3 separate regions of the Homo sapiens genome follow, and all the other regions are linked to region 3. Evidence: fine-mapped expression QTL. A gene starts in region 3. Each other region holds a variant in brackets. All regions are shown on one strand. Distances are between the middles of the regions. Region 1 overlaps MFHAS1 (multifunctional ROCO family signaling regulator 1). Region 2 overlaps MFHAS1 (multifunctional ROCO family signaling regulator 1). Region 3 holds the start of MFHAS1 (multifunctional ROCO family signaling regulator 1).

The links.
Region 1: its variant is fine-mapped to the expression of MFHAS1 in blood mononuclear cells (TOPMed, PIP 0.99).
Region 2: its variant is fine-mapped to the expression of MFHAS1 in whole blood (TOPMed, PIP above 0.99).

Annotation. Positions count from the first base shown.
Region 1 is chr8:8,868,061-8,876,244 of GRCh38, reverse strand. The region is part of intron 1 of MFHAS1 (multifunctional ROCO family signaling regulator 1); the gene reads left to right. Among named protein-coding and RNA genes, the nearest start is that of MFHAS1, 21 kb to the left of the region's middle. RefSeq lists a silencer at 7,472-7,766. The variant C/T (reference allele first, on the strand shown) is at 4,969.
Region 2 is chr8:8,853,745-8,861,928 of GRCh38, reverse strand. All of the region lies in intron 1 of MFHAS1 (multifunctional ROCO family signaling regulator 1), which reads left to right. Among named protein-coding and RNA genes, the nearest start is that of MFHAS1, 36 kb to the left of the region's middle. RefSeq lists an enhancer at 1,294-1,503. The variant C/T (reference allele first, on the strand shown) is at 4,630.
Region 3 is chr8:8,889,034-8,897,214 of GRCh38, reverse strand. It overlaps MFHAS1 (multifunctional ROCO family signaling regulator 1), which reads left to right and starts at 3,585. Exons shown (of 3, transcript NM_004225.3): 1 at 3,585-7,154. The coding sequence starts at 4,157. It also overlaps the pseudogene RNU6-682P. RefSeq lists silencers at 3,440-3,689, 3,700-3,979, 4,090-4,359 and enhancers at 4,204-5,164, 5,165-6,124, 6,125-7,085.

The DNA of each region.
Region 1 (8,184 bases), 21 kb after region 3:
TATGGTGGTTAGTTGCAAGAGCTCTTGGAGTAGACTGCTGGGCTCTAATCCCTGTGCCACTGCTTCTTAGTTATGTGACTTTAGGCATCATAATAGTTTGTGTTGGTTCTGAAGATTGAGTTATATGTGTTAAATGCTTAGAACAATGCTTGACACCTGGCAAGAGCTCAGTAGGAGTTTGCTGCTGTTTCCACCATTCCAGAAGGTACAAGAGTCTAAACATACTTTTAGAAGAGTGATAAGTTTGTGGATCAAAACTCTTTTCTTCATAGAAGAGGTGGAATACAGTATGATCTCTGTTCATATGAACACCTTATGCTCTTTTAAAAATGCTTTTTCCCCTTTATAAAAACTTATAGGCCGGGCATGGTGGCTCACACCTGTAATGCCAGCACTTTGGGAGGCCGAGGCGGGCGGATCACGAGGTCACGAGTTCGAGAGCAGTCTGACATGGTGAAACCCCGTCTCTAGTAAAAAATTGCAAAAATTAGCTGAGCGTGGTGGCACGCACCTGTAATCCCAGCTACTCAGGAGGCTGAGGCAGGAGAATCGCTTGAACCCAGGAGGCAGAGGTTACGGTGAGCTGAGATCGTGCCACTGTACTCCAGCCTGGGTGACAGAGCGAGACTGACTCAAAAAAACATAAAAAATTTGGAGAGTAGAAGAAAAAAAAGTTTCTCATGGTGGGTATCTAAAGTAATCACTACACATTTTGCTCTGTGTCTTTTAGCTTTGTTTCCTCCTTAAGCTTAGGTTTTAAAAATATGTAGTTATAATTGTATAAATAATTCAAATATTGATTTTTTAAACTTATGCTAACATGGATATAATTTCCTGTGATTAGTATTTATACAGTAATTAAAAATGCTTGCATAATAGTACATCAAGGTGATTTTTCACCTTTGTTTATTTAACCTTGTGTTCTTTTTGTTTATCCAACCATTTGTGCTCTTGTTCCCAGTTTTTTTTGTGAGTGATTCTCTGATGACTGTATTTCTTTATAAAAACTCTTTTTTATTTGGGCAGTAATCCCCGAAGTAGAGTCATTGAGTCAAAGGCAAAAAATGTCATTAAATCTCAATGCACGTTTACGTTGCTTCCCATGAGGATGGGCACGTCAGATGCAAGATCTTTTTCACTGTACCTCCTCAACATTGGGTATCATCTATAAAATGCACTACCGTTTAATGGAAACAATATGTCACTGGTGACTGAAGATTTTAACTAGTGGATGTGAACGTTTTCTTGTATAAATGTTGCCTAATTGTGTTGCTTCTTTTCTGAATCCTCTAATAACATCTTCTGGCATCATCTTGGTGGTTTTTCTTTTTTTTTTTTTAATCACAGTGTTTTATCAGTTTATATTAACTCTTCATATATAAAAGATAACCTTTTGTCTATCATACTTAAGGCATTTTTTTCTAGCTTGTTCCCCTCTTTGCTTTAAAAACCTTTAACGTTTTGAAGTTTCAAATTTCATTCAGTATATTAATAGCTTCCTCTGTGATTTCTTCTAGAGCTTAAAAAAACCTCATAACATTTTTCTAAATACAGAGGTGACAGCGGGAATCACATAGTGATTCTTCACCCTTATAACTTTAACTGAAAATAAAAAAAGTGCTATCCATATGTGGATGGTAGATTCATTAGCAAAGCCCCCTTTTTCATAACCCCTCCCCAAACTGTCTCCTCTGTAAAATGTTTCTTGCTGATTTCTTCCAGGGAAAATAAAGCATGTATTTGCATATATTTTAACAGGAATGAGATCATGCTGTACTCCTTGTTCTGCACCTCGCATTTGATCACTTCAAAATATATTTTTGAGATGCCTCCATATGAACAGTTAGAACCCTGTTATAGAAGATTATTATGTGTGTGTGTGTGTGTGTGTGTGTGTGTGTGTGTGTGTGTGTAGAATGTTATAGTATATCCTACAAATATAGCATAGTAGTCTACCAATGGATGTATTGTTCAGTCACACCTATACCGGCAGACCTTTGATCCTTTCCAGATTGTTAAACTAAGTACGTTCTCCACCTTCCAGAGGTGTAAGAAATACTCAGTTTTATTTCCTTCAGGGTTAATAATCCCTCTCTGTGCTCGGAACACTCTTGAGATGCAATTAGAAAAAGACAAATCTCTAAATCAAAGTGGTGGGACCTAAAAAAAGCCTCGAGGGTTATGAAGGCTTCGCTTTGTGATTTGAAACAAGGTAATTTTTTTAAATTGGCTTTGGTGATGTGTATTGGAACACCATTGTTTTCAGCATAATTACGCATTTCACAGCTTAATTCAGCCATTACACGTGATGCAGTGTTTAGACATAGCAATAATTACAAATTGTACATGTTTACAGATAGATATACCGCTGATCAAAATAAAACAGTGGCAGCAAGAATGATGTTCTGTCCATGTAAGAAATCAATGAAATATAATTAAGAACGAACTGTATCTCATTGACTCAAAACATTGCATCTGCCTTTCTGTCCCATCTGTTTTCTAAACAAAAATCTTCCCGCGCTGCGTGGTTGTTTTTATTTGTATCCTAGAACCATCCTCTCGAGTTCCACACCGTTGTATTTTCTACACCTAAGCTTGGTGTGTTCTGCACAGGAAATGTTTCTTGGATGTTTTATCCTCATACCAAGTGGGAATTTAAAATTTAAGAGATTACCCACACTCTTTGCCTTTCTGTACATGTGATGAAGAAAGAGTGGGTGTAACCCAGCACTCTAAAATGTGTTTGACCTGTAAAAAAAAAAAAAAAAAGTAAGCAATTAAATCCTGTTATAGTTGCTTCTGTGTTTAAAACATACTTAATGACGTATATATTTATTTCAAGCTAACAAAGTCCCCAGTCAGGTTCTTGGGAGTTTTTTTCACAGGACTCATTGAAGTGTTTGGTCTTTAAAATCCTTCATTTCATGCTAACTGCCAAGTCAATGCAGACAGTATGGCCGAACAGAGCTGGTCACATTTTCCCTGAACATGCTATTAAAAAATATATTCACTGGGATTCTCTTGACTCATGGCATAGCTGAGGTGACTTTGATTCCGGAGGGCTATTGCTTATGAATTGCATGTGGAAGAACTAAAAATAGAAATGTGAATTTTCCAAAAGAACACTATGATACCAAAAATGGCTCACTGGCTTGCCTAGAGCTGGGCTGTTTTGTGCCCAAGGTACAGTAATAAGAACTGGGATGCAAAGCCCTGTAGGGTGCATCTGTCCCCTTCCCTGACACCCCTCACTCCCAGATGGCTCACGAGTGGCACTGCCCGGTTGTCTCCGTCTCACTCTTGCACGATGTTCTGCTGCCTGTCTGGGATGGAGCAGGTGTTCTTTTGAATGTATTTGTTAAGCCTCTGAAATATATGCATTTCCCCCTCCCCAAGAAAAACACACATGTGCATGCTCTGTGCTTTTCCCTGGTTACTGTATTGTTCCCATCTTTTTTTTTATTTTTATTTTTTCCCTTGGAATAGGGAATATCCACTCATTTTCTATTTAGTCCCTTCAGGAATTTGCCTTAGGGGCTGTTGGGCCAGGCCTCACTGCAGCCAGCCAGAGCTTATCAGCTGTGTGTTAACCTCTCCCAGACACTTCTTGAATGCTGTTCATGCATCCGAGCCTATGCATCTGAGCCTCCTCTGTGTAATGTGGTGCGGCATTAAAAGCTTACCCAAATAGCAGGGATGATTGCATCTTGTTGATTACCAGGGCTGATAACATTTTCTTGCTTAGCTAAAAAGAAAAGCCAGATGACTGTTTCCAGGAAGTGATAAACTGCCATGCATCCGGCCCCAGGTGGTCCGCATGAAGGAAGCTGCAAGGTTGGAATCCTCCTGCCGTCCCCTTTTACAGTTCATAAATCTTCTGATTTATGGGGCCATTTGTGATTGCAGACACATTTATTCATGGGGGGATTTCCATCGAGATCATAACCCACTGTAAAGCAGGAGGAAGAATCAGGAATTAGAACGGTGTACATTCCTCTTTGTTAGAAAAGAATCCCGATTCTTTGGTCATAGACAAATATTTGCTTTTGAAGAATCTGGTGGTGTGTCGCTGGCTTTGTTCATATCCGTGCACAGTCACATGCTCCCTTGCCTCCCATGGACCCAGAAGCTTATGTTACACAGATCGTTTTATAATGCTTGCCATCCGGGCATGTTTATGCAAAGTGTGAATAACTTTTTGCCTTAGCCTCCTCTTCCTTCCTTCTCCCTCCTTTGATTTAGCTCATTTCTGGAATGGGGCAGATTTTCATCTCAGGGAGTTGATACGGTTTCCTAGGTAGGGTGACAGAACAAGTGTCACCTTAGCTGTAGCTAGAGATGAATATTGCCATGCAGCTTACTTGCTTTATATTAAACCAGCATTAGAGAAAGAGGCCTTGCATCTTTTATCAGCAGTATGTTAACCTCTCCCAGGCACTTCTTGAATGCCATTCATACATCTGAGCCCATGCATCTGAGCCTTGGATGTAATTAAATCAGTGGATTAGGAAGTCGGGGGCCTGGACCTCTGGGAAGCCACTTGGCCTCCCTGGGCCTCAATTTCGTCTGTAAATAGGTAAAAATAATTCTAACAGTTCCCAAGCATTTACACCTGCTATCAGAGTCTCCTTAGATGTTGTGAGGGGGAAATGAATGAATAGATGTCAAGTCCCCAAGTAGTTTTTTCTTTGTTTGCGTGTTTGTGATCACTCTGTTGCCCAGGCTGGAGTGCAGTGGAGTGATCTTGGCTCACTGCAACCTCCACCTCCCTGGTTCAAATGATTCTTGTGCCTCATTGTCATGAGTAGCAGGGATTACAGGCATGTGCCACCATGCCCAGCTAATTTTTGTATTTTTAGTAGAAACTGGGTTTCACCAAGTTGGCGAGGGTGGTCTCAAACTCCCGACCTCAAGTGATCCAGCCCCCTCGGCCTCCCAGAGTGCTGGGATTACAGGTGTGAGCCATCA[C/T]GCCCAGCTGCAAGTAGTTTTTACCATATAATAAGGGCTCAGTAAACATTAGCTCTGATTACCATCATCCTGGTTTACAGATGAGGAGTGGAGACAGAGGAGGGCTAAGTCATATGGCCAGGGGCACACAGCATGTAGCAGAGCCCAGGTTGTCCTCAGGAACCTATGGTCTTTGCTGTCACCCTGTGCTGCTTCTCAGGAAGGCAATAGCTTGTCACCCATTAAAAATGGGTAGTTATTTGAATGAAAAGCAGAATAACCCCCGGAGGCAGAGGTTGCAATGAGCTGAGATTGCACCATTGCACTCCAGCCTGGGCAACAGAGTGACGCTCCTGTCACCAAAAAAAGAAAAAAAGTAAGGACTCCTTGTGTGAAATGCACATGGTTGCTTTTAACATTGCAGTACTGGACTATAAACATTTGCTGGGGATTGGCAGTGACCAGCCATGGGGCAGAGCATGGGGCATGGGAGGGGAGCAAGGCCTTGACCCCGGGAAGCTGCAGTCCAGGGAAGCAGTGTGGACAGTAAGCAGAGATTTGCAGGGCTGTGTAATAAATTCCAGGAGAAAAAGATCTCCAGGGGCTCGGAGAGGCCTGCGGGATGGAATCTGTCTTGATCCACGTGTGTGTGTGTGGGGTGGTTAGATGGATGGGAGGTCTCCAGGGGAGGTGAGTCGTAGGGACTTTCTGTAAAACCAGGGCCCCTGACGTGTGATGGGCTGTACAAATTACTGGCAGCCCAACTATTCATTTATCAATGCACGTCTGTAAATATTTTTGTTTTCTTTTTAAACCTTTTTTGTTTTCCTGGGAGACAGAGTCTTGCTCTGTCATTTAGGCTGGAGTGAGGTGGCGCGATTTCAGCTTACCACAGCCTCAACTTCCTGGGCTCAAGCTATCCTTCCACTGCAGCCTCCCGAGTTAGCTGAGACTGTAGGTGCGTGCCACCATGTCTGGCTAATTTTTTTTTTTTTTTTTTTTTTTTTGTAGAGACAGGGTCTCACTATGTTGCCTAGGCTGGTCTTGAACTCCTGTGCTTAAGTGATCTGTGCATCTTGTCCTCCCGAAGTGCTGGGATTACAGGTTGAACCACTGTACATATCCCGTGTAAATAACTTTTAGCCTATCTATTCACTAGCTAACACTTTTTCACCAGAAGGAACTTCTGGCATCTGGGTGTTAAGCTAAATTAAAGCCTGATGGTTTTTTTCAGAGGGTGAGAGGAAAATACTGAAGGGTCAAATGGGGAAATGTCAAATTTCCATTTTGTCAGCACACTCAGGGCAGCAGTGTGGAAGATGGATTTCAATGGAGTAAGAATGGAGTCAGAGGGACCACTTAGAGGTAATTCAGACAATAATAAACAATAGAGGCCCCCAGGTAGGTCCTTGGGGATGAAGGCAATTGAGTCTTGGATGTTAATGAGGCAGAGTCCTGGGCCTCTCTCCTCCTAGCTCTGAGCTCTTGAACCTTCCCAGGCTCCGGTTTCCTCATCCATTAGACAGAAAGCATGACTGATTTAAGTGTATGTTTCAAGAAAAATTTTAACCACAGCGGGAAGAAGACTGCAGCATGTTTTAAAAAACAGAAAGCGGAAGTGATTTGATAAGATTAATTTCAACAGGACTGATGTGGAACGGCTGCTAGCTTAATTGGTTTATTAGGGTCGTGTAGCCACCCTCTTATGATGGATACCAGGTGAATTCCAGGAGATATATAGTCTTAGGTTTGTAAGCAGTGCCATTTGCAGAGGAATAAGGTTCTTTATTTCTTAAATTTGGAAGGGTCTCATAGAAATAAGAGACTTTATAAATATCTAGTAACCTGTCACCGCTTTAAAATACCGCAAAGATAAATGATGCTGATTGTCGCGTGCTTGGCATGATGAATTATGTATGTAGCGTGCCCCGGAGTTCTTTATGGTTGTGCATAACGAATCAGCTTTTGTTCTAGCTTATTTTCAGTGGTAGTGCTTGTAAAAGCAGAGGTCAAAGCAGATGCACTGAAGAGATGTGGTTGGTGCAGGATGATCGGGTTTTGCTATCCTGTTCTGTGCATTGCTTTTGTTTGTGCTTTGATTTTTCATTATCAACTTTGGGGAGGGTGGGAGAGCAGCCTTGTGGCATTAACAGCTGCATGATGGCACAGAGCAGGCAGCGACTCTTCTTGGTTCATGCACCTCAAAAGCGGCCCTCTTTTTGCCTTCCTCCTCCTCCTCTCTGCACCTGCTTTGCATAGCTGTTAACTACTTTTCCACCTAATAATAAAGGAAATTGAAATAAATGGTTAGGAACATGCCCATAATCTTTTTTCTCACTGACTTTCTCTAAACTCTAGACGAAACTAGAGAGGATTAAGAAATGTAAAACACAGCAGAGAATGTCTTTTTTTTCCTCTCCCTTTTTCTCTTCCCCTAGCAAAGATTTCTTTAGAATCTGAGTGAGATATCAGAGGTGCTGTTTGCATATGAAGTAGCGATGACTATGGGTGGAAGCCAGTTGTAAGGTTGCATAGTCATTTATAACTTCTTTCTATGTTAAGGTTACTACCGACTTTATGAGAGGAGCCTCCCAGACTCAGGTGTCATGCCTGACTCATGAGTAATTCATTAGAGAGGGCCCAAGCCATGTATTTCATTGTGGGTTTGTGAGCGGCCTCATCTTCCATAAGATGCTCATTTGTTGGGCTGATCCAAGGCAAAGATCCGAGTAGTTGGGAGTAGCTCCAAATTGGGATGAGCCCAGGCCTACTGTGCATATCTGTTTGGAAGGGCACATCTGTCTACCAAGGGCTGGTTCCAGTGTATTAGCCGAGTGGCACTAGGTAATCAGTTTACAGTCAGTTTAAAAAAGTTGAGGCTATCCTTCTCGGTGATTAATTATGGCTTTTAGTTCATACTAGATTAAAAAAAATCTTTGCATCTTTGCAAGAATAATCATTAACTTAGTTTGTCTATATTATTAGCCGAAAGATACAACACAGTGCTCATGCAGTGTAGAGAAATGAGATAACATCTAGAGTTTACATGTAAGTAGCTATTTGTCAGGATATTTATTCATTGATTCTAGATTCATAAAGCAGGAGTTTCCAGAGGCCTTGCAGCAAGGAATAAGCACCTGGGAGATTCAACTGAATCCCCCTCAGAGCCTGTGCGTTGGGAACTTGGTCTAGAAAATGGATCAGGTTTGTGCGCTATACCACTTATTATAATAAATG
Region 2 (8,184 bases), 35 kb after region 3:
TTGTGGTATGCGACATAGCAAGGAAAAGAGATGAACTACTGATAAAGCGACATGGATGACTCTCAAAAGCATTATGCTGAGTGAAAGAAGCCAGTCGAGTACATATTGTATGACTCCATTTATATGAAGTTCTAGAAAAGGCAAAACTGATACACTGTCAGAAAGCAGGTCTGGGGCCGGTGGTATGGGGAAGGGATTTACTGCAGAGGGGTACAAGAGAACCTTTTTGTGGTGACGGGAATATTCTACCTCATGACTGTAGTGGAGGTTACGAGACTATATCTGTCAAAATGCATCAAGTTCTACGTTTAAAATTGGTGAATTTTATTACACGTAAAATGCCTTTATTATATCTTGTTAATTTAAAAAATAAGTTTTGATTATACGATTTCCTTAGATGTCCTGAAACATGCTGTTTTCACACTAATTTGGTATATACCTTGTGATTATATCCTTTGTATATGAATATTGTGGTAAGTGGAACATTGTTGTTGGAGATATATCCAGATTTTCTACCTTAGTTTGTGTGATTGATTATATTCTGTTAGACTGAACCACATGAAATTGTTGATATCCAATCATTCTTGACCTACAAAAGCAGCAATTTCACGTGGCATAAGTATAGTAGAAATTTTGTTTGCTTTTTAATTCATTGGAAAGACTTGGCAATGGTCACATCTCGATTGTGAAGTTTCAAGGATTTTGTAAGACACAAGGCCTGAGTGTTCTGTTTTACATTACATGTTTTATTTTGCTTTAATTCAGTTCGGTAGATGTTTTATATATGTCTACCACTTTTCAGGCATTCTACTTGAAATTACAGTGGATGAATGTAAAGATGAGTTTGATATTACCTCAGCCCAAGAAACGTTAAGTGATGAAATTAAAAGGCACGTGTAGACTTTCTGTCATAATCGCTAATAGGGACTGTGAAATAGAACTCCCAGTTCTTGTCATGTCCATTGCAGTGATTATAATAAGGTATTTGGGCTTTCATAGTGATGAAATAAGTGGTTGTGGGTTTGTATACGTATGTATACATAAATATGTATGCGTATGAGCCCAGAAGAAATGGAAACGAGACCAATGATTTAATTTGCATGAAAATTAGAACTGTCTGCCAAGAGCAAACATCTCTCTCACCCTTTTTCAAGAGAAAAAAAGGTCTTGTAGTTTGGCATGACTCAGTGGATGACCTCACACTGATTCTCCTTTAGTTATTGCTTGAATGCGTGGAGCCCTCAGTCCTAAGTGAGGCGGTCTGGGTGATGTTATGGCATTTCATTTGGGAAAGCGGCTGTCACTTCATCCTTAAGCCTCCTGTTTGCTGTGATGGTGGCAGAGCCACTCTCAGCACCACAGGAAGAGCCCCGGGGAATTCCTGAAGACACATTCTAGAGAATCCGGTACAAGTGTATGTAGGTTGGTCACCTTGATGCCTTATTTTCTCAGGCTTCTAGTAGAGATGCATGCCAGCAAAATGGAAAGGAACAGAGGGCGTTCTTGAAGTTTCCTAACTGGCGTATTTTCTCCTTCTCTTTTTCTAATAATTAAGTACAGGGGACTGAGAAGGCAGGGGTTGTTGTTATTTTTACATGGAATGGACCTAACCTAGCAGTCAGATGAGATTGTTGACGCGTAGCACAGTCTGTTATCTTTGGGCATCTGCCACCAAAGAGAGTGTACCCAAGAAGGGCTGTCGTGTGAGTGGGATGGGTTTCCATCTTTTGTTCTGTGCTCTTTCTGTGGAATCTCAGGCCTGCGTGTGCTCCCTCTGACCGTACCTTGACTCTTGATGAAGGATTTGCAGCCCTGAGAGGGAGCAGGCAGACCCAAATTAATTATTTCCATTTTTTTTGTGGCACTGTGGGACAATGGGAGAGAATACAGGCTTTGGAGCCAGCCAAATGTGTTTCAGATCCTAAATCCTCCACCTAAGGTATGCAGTCCTGATGGGTAAGTTATTTTAATTTGTTTGAACTGCCACTTAACTGAAAATGGGATTAATACCAGATATCACTTAAAATTAGTAAAAAATACAGTTGACCCTTGAACAATGCAGGCATTGGGGGCACCGACCCCCCATTCAGTTGAACATCTAACTTTTGACTTTGCAGAATTTAACTACTAATAGCCTACTGTTGACTGGAAGTCTTACTGATAGCATTAACAGTCAATAGCACATATTTTGTACATTATAGATATTAGATACTATATTCTTACAATATAGTAAACTAGAGCAAAGAAAATGTTACTGAGAAAACCGTAAGGAAGAGGAAATATATTTACTGTTCCTTAAATGGAAGTAAATCATCGGTGAAGGTCTTCATCCTTGTCATGTTAAAATTGAGTAGACTGAGGAGGAGGAAGAAGAGGAGGGGTTGGTCTTGCTGTCTCAGGCATGGTAGGGGTGGAAGAAAACTGTCATATAAGTAGACCAGCACAGTTCACACCCGTGTTGTTAAACGATCAACTGTATTTTATTAAGCTGTCTTTGAATAGCACCAAGTATCTTAGTGTATGAGAAGGCCTCTGAGAAGTTCCACAGTTAGGAAACATGGTGAACTTTTTTTTTTGGTGTGAGGGGCACAGAGTCTTGCTCTGTCACCCAGGCTAGAGTGCAGTGGTGTGATCTTGGCTCACTACAACTTCCACCTCCTGGGTTCAAGTGATTCTCCTGCCTCAGCCTCCCAGGTGGCTGGGACTACAGGCGTGTGCCACTACACCCATGTAATTTTTGTAGAGACGGGGTTTCGCCATGTTGGCCAGGCTGGTCTCGAACTCCTGACCTCAAGTGATCCTTGCATCTCAGCCTCCCAAAGTTTTGGGATTACAGGCATGAGCCATCACTACCAGCCGTGGTGAGCTTTGTTTAACCAAGCATTTTTCAAACTTATTGACTGAAGAATCTTTATGTGTGTGTGTATGTGTGTGCATATGTAAGAAGTAACATCCGCTGGAGCTGGTATTGTGCAGAAAATATGTTGAGAAATATAAAACAGATATCTGGCTTGTGTTCCTCTATATAGTCTTTTTTGACTGAGAATGCTTTATCCTTGTTGTTACGGATATTTTCACTTTGTTTATTTCTATTTTGGTCTGAATCATGAGTGTAGTTGATCCTTGAACAACATAGATTTGAACTGCTTGGGTCCACCTCGACGCCACCTGTGCATACGGAGGGCTGGCTCATCTCATATGCAGGTCCCGAGGGCCAACTTCAGGACTTTATGCATAGATTTTGGTGTGCTGGGGATGGGGGCCCTAGAACCCAACCCCCCATATATATACCGAGGGAGGACTGTCTATTTTTGTTTTTTACCTGTGAGGCCATCGCCACAATGAAGAGAGTATCCCCCAAAAGGCATATTTTTAATATAGTTGTAATTATAGCATTGCATAATCGTTTTCAGTAACATAGGTCTCATCTGTTGCTCTAGGTCTTAGTAAAATAAATCACTCTTGTTGAACCCTTCCTAGGCTCCAAAACTGGATGGGCCATTTAATATAATTTTAAATATTAAATTTAAATTTTCTTTCATTTATTAGAATTTTCAAAGGGTAATAATGTTATATATTTAGATTTTGATGACATGGAGACATCTGAGACTTGCTTAGTTTTAAAAAAGCAAAATTTATGTCATACAGCTCTTGTAAGGACTGAATAAAATAATGCATATAAAAATGCCTAAGACAATGCTTGGCATGTAGTGGGCACTTACTAAACAATTTCCTTCCTTCCCTTGCTGGCTTCTTAACTACTCCCTGCCTTGTATACCCCCTGTGCTCCGTCCCAATTTCTGTTCAGATACTAGACAGATGGCTGTTGCTTTGGGATAGGTCAAAGGCTGTCAGGCGTGGAGGCAGGCAAATGACCCAGATCAGTGAACACCAGTCATTGTCTCAGAGCATTTTGTTTTGTTCAGCTCAGCTATTTGAATCATCTTGGATTTTCTCATTTGTTTAGAAAAAGGTTTCCCCAAAATTGGTGGTGTTGGGTTCCTGATAGCAAAATGTATCAACAAGTGGGCAGTCAGCATATGGAATTTGCCCAACTCTACAGGGAAACTTGCTTTAGGTATTTTAAAAGTTAACTTGTCAATGTCACTGTAGGACAGTTATATATCTACTGAGTTTACAAACAAAAGATTTTTTTTTGTTTTTTTTTTGAGACGGAGTCTTGCTCTGTTGCCCAGGCTAGAGTGCCTTGGTGCGATCTTGGCTCACTGCAACCTCTGCCTCCCGGGTTCAAGCGATTCTCCTGCCTTAGCCTCCTGAGTAGCTGAGACTACAGGCACCCGCCACCATGCCTGGCTAATTTTTATATATTTTTTGGTAGAGACGGGGTTTCACAATATTGGCCAGGCTGGTCTCGAGCTCCTGACCTTGTGATCCACCTGCCTGGGACTCCCAAAGTGCTGGGATTACAGGCGTTAGACACCGCGCCGGGCCTGAACTCATTTTTAATTAGAATTCTTATTATTTCAGTGGCTGAATGGAGGAAAAAAGAAAGGACCTAAGCCCAGAAAATTCACAGGTTTGTTTCAGGGTAGAAAAATTTGGCATATTTTGGCCTGGAAGATATCTCATTATGGAATCAGAAATCTGAAAGGGATATTAAATTAGGAG[C/T]AAACTTGTGCTGTGTTGGTTAACCACTGAAAGTTGCATTGGCAGTTTAGTAACTAAACAATAGGGCCACACGCGGAATTTATTGATGTCTCATGAACTTTCTGTTTAAATCTTTATTGCTTTGAATTGATAGGCTTCTTTTTTCCCTTCCACTTTGCTTAAGGGACTGAATCTGTTTTTGGCATTCTAAGACTCTTTTTAGAATTTGGCAGTGCCTCTCTAGGATGTTTTCTTCTGCACTGCCTCCAAAACAAAATTATGAACAGCCTGGCTCTTTCGGTATCTCTCCTCTTTTTTTTTTTTTTTTTTTTTTTTTTTTCACTTTCCTGATGTGAAAGTGTCAGGTTTTGAGCCAGTTTGAAAGATGAGAACTAGAATATATTTCTCTTTCTGATCTAGAGAATCCTAGTGGCTTCTAGGGCAGTGTATAAACAAAGCCCTGTGGCTGCAAGGTTTCCCGTGTGCAGCAATAAACTGATACATGCCGGTGACAGGAATCTGGCTCATGGGCTTGAAACCATCCATTAACTCATTAATTGACCAGACATCATGGGGGTCTGCTGAGTGCCATGGGGATGCTCTGTGCTGGGAAAGATGCAAAGATGAATAGGCTAGGAATAAAAGACCAATTTCATTTTTTAATGTGTCAGTATTTTTAATATTGAAATGTAGGACCTTGCAAGTAAAATACTATTAAGCTAATTTCCCAATTTAGAGTCTTTGAATTATTGTCTTGGATATTAAATATATTCAGTGTTTCCCACCAGTGGATCCCAAAGCCTCACCTGATATGTTTGGCAATTGTCAGGCCCTCTTTTTTATACTCCAGAGGAATTCCAACAGGAAATATGTACACACCATCCCTTACCTCCCTTGCTTCTTTTCTTTTCTGCGTCCTACTTTGTTTGATCTTGAAATACGGGGAAGTATCTTCTGGGCAAGTGCTGTTTCTGTGCCAGGCTGTGCAGGTCATGCTTGCCCCAGTGCCATGAGAAAGACACTCGAGTGAGCTCGGGACAGATCTCTCCAGCACTGTCCTGGCTTGACCCCACCTGACCAGTGACTCTTGTACCATGCCCAGCTCCTTTGGCTGCTGGAGCAAAAAGATCTAGGGAGTTTGTTTTCCAAATAAGGGCCCCAGATCTTACTTTCAGAGCTGTGCATGTGAGGAGTTCATGGGGAATCCCTCATCTCAGCAGACATGGGGAAGACCGTCTTCTAAACTGTAGTTCTGAAACAGGTAAACATTCAGTCCCCGCTCGCTTTCAAAGCACAAAAGTGAGGAGGCTTATTTGGCATTGAAATAACTGAGCATCTTTTCTCATCTGTGTTTCTGAATCTGTTATGGCCAGTGTTTTATAACCCCCTTCACATTACCTTGTCAGTAACTTGCTTCAGATGAAAATAACGGCAGAAAGCATAATTTTTTGTTTTTTTCTTTTTTGAGACGGCGTCTCACTCTGTTGCCGAAGCTGGAGTGCAGTGGCGTGATCTCGGCTCACTGCAACCTCAGCCTCCCAGGTTCAAGTGCTTCTCCTGTCTCAGCCTCCCAAGTAGCTGGGATTACAGGTGCCTGCCACCATGCCTGGCTAAATTTTGTATTTTTAGTAGAGAGTAGGTTTTGCCATGTTGGCCAGGCTGGTCTTGAACTTCTGACCTCAAGTAATCCACCCGCCTCGGCCTACCAAAGCGCCAGGATTACAGGTGTGAGCCACCGTGCCTGGCTGAAAACACTGTAGCGAGTTCATGAATCAGGATTAAAGAATCTGTGGGATATATAGAATGATAGAATAAATTCTATAACGTTCATTTTCATTGTGCAGGATGGAGACATTAGTGTGCATCTCAGTTAGGATTTAATTGCTCCTTCCCTGTGTTCTTGAAAGCGCTTGGAAAGCGCCTCCAATCCTCCATTGTATGATTCTAGTTCAGGTCTGGCTCTTTCACCAGACAATGAGCTCCTGTGGTAAGATGCCATGTCTTAATTCATCTGTTTTCCGCTTGTCCTAATACAATGTTAAGATTGCCAGATAAAATACAGGATGTCGGCTGAGTGTGGTGGCTCACGCCTGTGATCCCAGCACTTTGGGAGGCCGAGGCGGGTGGATCCCCTGAGCCCAGGAGTTCGAGACCAGCCTGGGCGACATGGCGAGACCTCTCTCAACAAGAAATAAAAAATAATTTTGGTATGCTGGGGGTGGGGGCCCTAGAACCAAACCCCCCATATATACTGAGGGAGGACCACGACTGTGGTCCCAGCTTCTTGACAGGCTGAGATGGGAGAATCACTTGAGCCCAGGAGATGGAGGCTGCAGTGAGCTGTGATAGTATCACTGCACTCCAGCGTGGGGTATAGAGTGAGATCCTGTATCAAAAACAAAGAAACAAACAAACAAAACCCCAAAAACCCAAAACCAAAAAAACAGGATAGCCAGTTAAATTTGAATTTCAGATAAACAATAAAGTGTTGCTTATGGGTGGGTCTCATGTATACATCTATTCTTACATCTGAATTTCACGTAAGCAACGAATAATTTTTAGTGTAAATATGTTCCATGTGATGTTCTGATTTAGTCATAATACATATTTTTTTCTTTCTTCCTTTTTTTTTTTTTGAGACAAAGTCCCCCTCTGTCATCCAGGCTGGAGTGCAGTGGTGCAATCTTGGCTCACTGCAACCTCCACCTCCAAGGTTCAAGCAATTCTCATACCTCGGCCTCCTGAGTTGCTGGGACTAGAGGCATGCACCACCTCACCTGGCTAATTTTTTTTTTTTTTTGAGACAGAGTCTCGCTCTGTTGCCCAGGCTGGAGTGCAGTGGTGCGATCTCAGCTCACTGCAAGTACGGCCTCCCGGGTTCACTCCATTATCCTGCCTCAGCCTCCGGAGTAGCTGGGACTGTAGGCGCCCACCACCAAGCCTGGCTGATTTTTTGTATTTTTAGTAGAGACGGGGTTTCACTGTGTTAGCCAGGATGGTCTTGATCTCCTGACCTCTTCTTGACCTCCCAAAGTGCTGGGATTACAGGCGTGAGCCACTGCACCTGGCCTAATTTTTATGTTTTTAGTAGACACGGGGTTTCACCATGTTGGCCAGGCTGGTCTTGAACTCCTGACCTCAAGTCATCCTGCCACCTTGGCCTCCTAGAGTGCTGGGATTACAGCTGTGAGCCACCACACCCAGCGTATATTTTTGTTTTGTAAATTGGGCAACCTTATACAATGCCCATGACTTACAAAGGATTTTTTGCTCCTAAATCAGTGTAATTTAATAATGTGAACACAACTAAGACAAATCAAGGTGTTCATGGAGTTGGTTGGTGTCTTTTATGGAATGCAACATGGGAATTGGAAATAGTAATTATCCACCTTCACCAGTGTGTTAGTGAGTATGGACCATTTAACCTACAACAGTTGGATAACCTTGACAATAGAAATAGGTAGCTAAGCCAGGGGTGGTGGCTCCTAGTACTTTGGGAGGCCGAAGTAGGGGGATCACTTGAGGTCAGGAGTTCGAGACTAGCCTGCCCAACATAGTGAAACCCTGTCTCTACTA
Region 3 (8,181 bases):
GACCTTGTGATCTGCCCGCCTCGGCCTCCCAAACTGCTGGGATTACAGGTGTGAGCCACTGCACCCAGCCCAGGAATCATTTCTATAGTTCTTTACGAAGCAGTTTCTTTGAAAGTGGAAAGCACAAAGAAAAAAAAATTTTAAAGCTATATGGAACACAATATCTTTTCATAGAGTTTTCTTTTATCATTGAGTTATCTTTTATCATTTGACTTTCTAGTTTTTAGCATACTGACTTTCTTTTGTTGTGTTGTGTTGTATTTTGAGACAGAGTCTCACTCTGTTTCCCAGGCTGGAGTACAGTGGTGCAGTCTTGGCTCACTGCCGCCTCCACTTCCCAGCCTCAAGTGATCTTCCCGCGTCACTCCTGAGTAGCTGGGACTACAGGTGTGCGCCACCACACCCTACTAATTTTTGTATTTTTTGTAGAGATGATGTCTTGCCTTGTTGCACAGGCTGGTCTCGAACTCCTGAGCTCAAATGATCTGCTCGCCTCAGCCTCTGGAAGTGCTGGGATTACAGGCATATACCCCTGTGCCCATTCACATACTGACTTTCAAAGAACTCATAGACAAGGATTCTTACAAGGCTTCCTACTATATTGACTGCATCAGCTGAGGGGCTCACAAAGAATTGCCACCCCCAGCACACTTATTCACTCCAGGCTTTGGGGCTTTAGTGGGGCTTGAAGCCCCTAGCGCAGGGTCCTAGCCAGTACTTTTTATTAGATAAAGCAAATTATAGATGATCTCCTGACAAATGAAGAGTGCAGTTTTCCAAGGACATTTAAAATAGAAGTATAAGCTGGTCAGGGTGGCTTATGCCTATAATCCCAGCTACTCAGGAGGCTCAGGCAAAAAGACTGCTTGAGCCCAGGAGTTCGAGTCCAGCATGGGCAACAAAGCAAGACCCCCATCTCCAGAAAAAAAAAAAAAAAAGAAAGAAAGAAAAGAAAGGAAAATATAATTTTCTTCAGAGAAAAAGTCTCACTCTGTCACCCAGGCTGGAGTGCAGTGGTGTGATCTTGGCTGACTGCAACCTCCGCCTTCTGGTTTCGAGCAACTCTCGTGCCTCAGCCTCCTGAGTAGCTGGGGACTAAAGGTGCGCACCACTATGCCTGGCTAATTTTTGTATTTTTAGTAGAGATGGGGTTTTGACATGTTGGCCAGGCTGGTCTTGAGCTCCTAACCTCAACTGATCCACCACCTCGGCCTCCCAAAGTGCTGAGATTACAGGCATGAGATGCCATGTCCGGCCATTTTTCTTTTTTAAAATAATTTTTTAAATGAAAATATTATTAAATAAATGAACACCATGAATTTGCATGTCATCTTTGTGCAGGGCCATGCTAATCCTCTCTGTATTTTTCCAATTTTAGTATATGTGCTGCTGAAGCAAGCACAATTTTCATTTTTTTCAATTGATTTCAGCTTCTGCAGGAGGAAGTATAATTTTCTGATGGCTTCTAAAGAGGAACAGTTAGCAGTTATTGAGATATAATCATGTAAGGTGGTGTAGGATGGTGATGCCTACTCCAGTCTCCTTACCCAGGCTGAGTTCATATTTTTGTTAGAAGAAGCTGCAGGATGGAGAATTTGGGGTCTGGCTCAAGAACAGTGTGAGTACAGGTGATGATCACAGGGGAATACATTCCACACGGGGAGTTAGCAGTCCTGCCTCTACTCTACTTTGATGGCTGATTGAGAAGTCACTTACTTTGAGCCCATTTCCTCCTCTGTGGGGGAAAAAAAGGGTCAGCCTAGATAACTCAGAATATTTGTTGTAAAATTGACTGTCTCTGGGAGGGAGTGTGGGTGGGGCTACCCTGAGCCATCTGAACTCTCGGAAGTCCTTCAGAGTGAACACAGATCAGCTCTTGCTGTTCACTTACTCACATTTCATCTGTGGTGTCAGAGCCTCAGGGACCCAGCAGAACTGGGGAACATCCTCCAGTTACAGCATGTACTACCTGCAGCCTGATAACCATCACTGGGGTGGATTTCCAGCCTCAGATGTTCAGGTGCTCTTTTTGGAAACACACACTTCTCACGTTACTGCACCAAATATGGGTCCCCAAATGACAGCCATAGCGCATGTCGGGGAGAGCTGCAGTGGGTCAAGTGATGCCTTTAACCAACTGAACGCAGTTTTCGGTCCCTGAAAACTATTTGCTTCCTTATCAATCAACCTGAAGGGAATGATGGAGGTGACACTGGGAGTCTTGGTAGGTTTCCAGACTTTCATAAGTTCGGGAGAAATTATTGACTTAGCATAGATGTGAGCTCAAAGAAACATTTCCTAACAGCAATAAAAATAAGCATTAGAGTTGAACAATGGACTGTGACTGTTTCCCAAAATAGCTGTTTTCTTGAGTCCGCAGAACAACAGGTACTGTATTAATGGGGATACAGTATTTGTTTCACAGCGTTGTTGTGAAGATAAACGGGATACCCCAGATAAACAGCTTGTGTCCCCCCCATCTTAACAACCCTCCTTTAGGCTGGCGGGCCACCTGCTCAAAAGCCTTCCCCAGGGGGGTTAAAACCGTCTTTTAGTAGTTCTGGTACGGGTGGGCTGGGGGAGATCCTCTAAAGCCAGTGCGACCTTGACCCCAGCCAATGTCCAGGCTCTTGACACATCCAGAGAATGAGTTCAAGGACAACTCAGAAAATAGTGACAATATGCAGATTTATTGCAAAGGGAAAAGTACACACCCAGGAAAAGGGATTGTGGAGAGGGTCACTCACAACGGGGCTTGGGGCTGCTACCTTTATGGGTTTCTTTAACCAAGGGGTGAAATATTCATGAAAATTCCTGGAAAAGTGTGGAGATTTTTCGGGACTGTGGTGCCACCCATTTTTACTTCAAATATGGGTGTCCCCGGAATTGTCATGGCACTGGTGTGACTTAGGATGTTAAAGAGCGTATAATGGAGGCCTAGGAGAAACCTAGGTCAAATCCAGGACCACGTCGGGTCCAGCCGGTCTTAGCCAGCTTGGTACACACCCTGGTTTTCAGGGTCTTATCAGCCCATAGCCTCCAGTCAAGTGAAACTGCTGCCTGGTATTTTTTATTCTCCTCTGACCAGCCTGCATTACTCCTGTCCCATGTTCAACACGAAATAGGGCCTCAGGAAATATTTACCAAATGAATGAATGGTTGCCTGTTCTAATTTTGTTTAACCACACTCTTGTCCTAAGCTTCTATGATGATACCCAGGGCCCCCGAGTTGTGCCAGTTCCACTACGGCGTGGATGCAAGGCGAGCGGCAGGGGAGCAGGTAAAGGATGAGTAAGGGAAGCCGGCGGATCCGACGCATTAGAGAACAAGAAAAAGAAATCCTTAGAGACTGGGGGCCAACAAAGAGCCAGGCGCGGGCGAACCCACCAGGGGGGCCCCGGAGCCCCACATCCGCCGCTGGGACGACCTCCCCGCCCAGCATGGTCCGGGGCGCGGACCCGGCCCCGCGCCAGGCGCCCCCGGCCCCGCACCCGGCGCCCTCCGCAGCTCCCGCCCCCGGGGCGGTGCCGGGAAAACGCGGCGCCTCCGCCGGTCACGTGGGGGCCGCTCCGGCGGGCGGCGCTGCCGCTTCCCAATCGCGCCCTCCCAGCGCCGGGGACGCGGCGCCCGCGCTCCCGCCCGAGCCCGGGGAAACGGAGACAAGGAGGCGCCGCCGCCCCCTCCCCGCGGCTGCGCCCCAGCCCTGCGCCCGCAGCATGCCCGCCGCCGGGCCGAGCGCCGCCCTCCCCCAGGAGCTCGAGGAGGCGACGCCGCTGCCGGCCGCGGGACCGCGGCTGCGAGGGTAGCGGGGCCGGAGCCGGGCCCCCCGAGGCGCCGCGCGGCGGGCGGAGAGGGAGGAGGAGCAGGCATCCTCCGCGGCGCGCGGGCGGCGGCCCTGCTGCCCGGCGCGCCCATGGCCCGGCCGCAGGGAGAATGCAAGCTGCTCTCCACGCGCTCGGCGTCCCCCGGAGCCGCTCGCGTCGCCGCCGCCCCCTAGCCGCCAGCGCTCGGCCGCTGGCTGCGCTAGGACCCGCGGCCGCCGGCCGCCGAGCGCGGGAGGGCAGGCAGGGGCAGGAGCCGGAGGGCCCGGGGCGCGGCGCGGCATGTAGCTGCGGGCTCCCGCGTCCGCGTGAGGCTGTCGGCCCGGGGCCCCGCCATGGCTGGGATGGACAGTGGCAACCTGAAGACCGCGAGGCTGTGGCGGGACGCCGCCCTGCGTGCCAGGAAGCTGCGGAGCAACCTGCGCCAGCTCACGCTTACCGCCGCCGGGGCCTGCCCCGGGGCCGGGGCCGACGCGCTCGAGTCCCCCGCCTCCCCCCAGCTCGTGCTGCCGGCCAACCTCGGGGACATTGAGGCACTGAACCTGGGGAACAACGGCCTGGAGGAGGTACCCGAGGGGCTGGGGTCGGCGCTGGGCAGCCTGCGCGTCCTGGTCCTGCGCAGGAACCGCTTCGCCCGGCTGCCCCCGGCGGTGGCCGAGCTCGGCCACCACCTCACCGAGCTGGACGTGAGCCACAACCGGCTGACCGCCCTGGGCGCGGAGGTGGTGAGTGCTCTGAGGGAGCTGCGGAAGCTCAACCTCAGCCACAACCAGCTGCCCGCCCTGCCCGCCCAGCTGGGCGCTCTCGCTCACCTGGAGGAGCTGGATGTCAGCTTTAACCGGCTGGCGCACCTGCCTGACTCCCTCTCCTGCCTCTCCCGCCTGCGCACCCTGGACGTGGATCACAACCAGCTCACTGCCTTCCCCCGGCAGCTGCTGCAGCTGGTGGCCCTGGAGGAGCTGGACGTGTCCAGCAACCGGCTGCGGGGCCTGCCTGAGGATATCAGTGCCCTGCGTGCCCTCAAGATCCTCTGGCTGAGTGGGGCCGAGCTTGGCACGCTGCCCGCCGGCTTCTGCGAGCTGGCCAGTTTGGAGAGCCTCATGCTAGACAACAACGGGCTGCAGGCTCTGCCCGCCCAGTTCAGCTGCCTGCAGCGGCTCAAAATGCTCAACCTCTCCTCCAACCTCTTCGAGGAGTTCCCTGCCGCGCTGCTGCCCCTGGCTGGTCTGGAGGAGCTCTACCTTAGTCGCAACCAGCTCACCTCGGTGCCATCCCTTATCTCGGGCCTGGGCCGGCTTCTCACCTTGTGGCTGGATAATAACCGCATCCGCTACCTGCCGGACTCCATCGTGGAGCTGACCGGCCTGGAGGAGCTCGTGCTGCAGGGGAACCAGATCGCGGTGCTGCCCGACCACTTTGGCCAGCTCTCCCGGGTGGGTTTGTGGAAGATCAAAGACAACCCACTGATCCAGCCCCCCTACGAGGTCTGCATGAAGGGGATCCCCTACATCGCAGCCTACCAGAAGGAACTGGCTCATTCCCAGCCGGCGGTGCAGCCCCGGCTCAAGCTGCTCCTGATGGGGCATAAGGCTGCAGGAAAGACTTTGCTGCGCCACTGCCTCACCGAGGAGAGAGTGGAGGGATGCCCAGGAGGAGGGGACAAGGAGAAGTGCTACCCACCGTCACCTCCCCCTGTGAGCAAGGGCATCGAGGTGACCAGCTGGACGGCCGATGCCTCCCGGGGCCTGCGGTTCATCGTGTATGACTTAGCTGGGGATGAAAGTTATGAGGTGATCCAGCCCTTCTTCCTGTCCCCAGGGGCCCTATACGTGCTGGTGGTCAACTTGGCCACCTATGAGCCTCGCCACTTTCCTACCACCGTGGGCTCCTTCTTGCATCGGGTCGGGGCGAGAGTGCCCCACGCGGTGGTGTGCATCGTGGGCACCCACGCAGACCTGTGCGGAGAGCGTGAGCTGGAGGAGAAATGTCTGGACATTCACCGCCAGATCGCCCTGCAGGAGAAGCACGACGCGGAGGGACTGAGCCGCTTGGCCAAGGTGGTGGACGAGGCACTGGCCCGGGACTTCGAGCTGCGCTCTGCCAGCCCCCACGCAGCCTACTATGGCGTTTCGGACAAGAACCTTCGACGGCGCAAGGCCCATTTTCAATACCTGCTCAACCACCGGCTGCAGATCCTCTCCCCCGTGTTGCCTGTTAGCTGCAGGGACCCGCGCCACTTACGACGCCTTCGGGACAAGTTGCTGTCAGTTGCTGAGCACCGAGAGATCTTCCCCAACTTACACAGAGTACTGCCTCGATCCTGGCAGGTGCTGGAGGAACTGCATTTCCAGCCACCTCAGGCCCAGCGACTGTGGCTAAGCTGGTGGGACTCGGCGCGCTTGGGCCTGCAGGCGGGTCTGACCGAGGACCGACTGCAGAGTGCCCTCTCCTACCTGCATGAGAGCGGCAAGCTACTCTACTTTGAGGACAGTCCGGCTCTCAAGGAGCACGTCTTCCACAACCTCACCCGCCTCATCGACATCCTCAATGTCTTCTTCCAGAGGGATCCCTCTTTGCTGCTGCATAAGCTGCTCCTAGGGACCAGTGGAGAGGGCAAGGCGGAGGGGGAAAGCTCCCCGCCCATGGCGCGGTCCACCCCCAGCCAGGAACTGCTCCGGGCCACCCAGCTCCATCAGTATGTGGAGGGCTTTCTGTTGCATGGGCTCTTGCCAGCTCATGTCATTCGGTTGCTGCTTAAGCCTCATGTCCAGGCCCAGCAGGACTTGCAGCTGTTGCTGGAGCTGCTGGAGAAGATGGGACTCTGTTACTGCCTCAATAAACCCAAGGGCAAGCCTTTGAATGGGTCCACAGCTTGGTACAAGTTCCCATGCTATGTGCAGAACGAGGTGCCCCATGCAGAAGCCTGGATTAATGGGACCAACCTAGCTGGGCAGTCTTTTGTGGCTGAGCAGTTGCAGATTGAATATAGCTTTCCTTTTACTTTTCCACTTGGGTTGTTTGCACGCTACAGTGTCCAGATCAACAGCCATGTGGTGCACAGGTCGGATGGTAAATTTCAGATCTTTGCCTATAGAGGGAAAGTTCCTGTGGTTGTGAGTTACAGACCTGCCAGGGGAGTCCTGCAGCCAGACACCCTGTCCATTGCTAGCCATGCATCATTACCAAATATATGGACCGCATGGCAAGCCATAACCCCCTTGGTGGAGGAACTGAATGTCCTACTTCAGGAATGGCCTGGACTGCACTACACCGTGCACATTCTCTGTTCTAAGTGCCTTAAGAGAGGATCGCCCAATCCACATGCTTTTCCAGGTAAGTGGAGAGAGGGAGAAGTTCTTCTGTGGTATGCTGTAAGATATGTTTTTGGAGATACTTGGTTGTCATTTGGCAGAATGTTTGTTTAACTTCACGGGTTCTCCAGGAAAGCTTCGTAAGGGAAACACAGGGAGATTTGGAGATGAGCAAAAGGTAGTAAGTACCTGAGCCTTATGAAATGCAGTCACAAGTGTCATCCTCTCCTAACAGACTCAGACTTCCAAAATGGGTTCCAGTCACAACATTTGCCATCTCCTTTCCCCTCTTGTCGATGTAGCCCACATTTGGTGGAAGGAAATTTCAGGTGGTTGAACAGATAGATTCTGGACAGTGTCCGATGTTAGCCTCTTACTGATCGTTGGCTAAAGTGTTCATTAGACACGTCTCAAAGGGGTAGATGAGTTTGAGTTTCAAGTGTCCAGTGTCACAATTTTTTAAAAAACTTAAATTTTCGTGAGTACATAGGTTTGTATATTTGTGGGGTGCATGAGATGTTTTGATACAGGCATGCAATGCATAGAAATCAGATTGTAAAATGCGGTATCCATCCCCTCAAGCATTTAAGCACTCTGCTTACATTCAGAATGTAATTAGAAAGTAAAAATTACTGCTCACTTTTCTTAAGAAATTCCAGAGAAAATCTTTTGTAATTGGAGTGAACAATGGATGAGTAAAGACAGAAATTTCAGACTGTAATGCATGACTAAATCCTGGGGCTGCTGCTCCCCTCCGCCCACTCAGGGACATGGAAGATAGATGACTGAAATCTTTGAGGGGCGTTTCCTCGGGAATTTCCTGGCAGTTTCGAGTTTTATAGACGTCTTAAGGTTTGTTTTTTGGTAAGTGTTAAGCAAATGAAGCTTTCTGGCAGTGCTTAATAATTGAGACGGAAGGGACAGAAAGCTAAGAGTTTTCTGGAGAGTGTTTTCCAGTAGACTTTTTTTTCGTTTTCTTTTTTTAAACCATCATAAGCAAGTGGAAGAATTCCAGGACTAGTTGTCTGGGGTTTTTTGTTTTTTTTTTT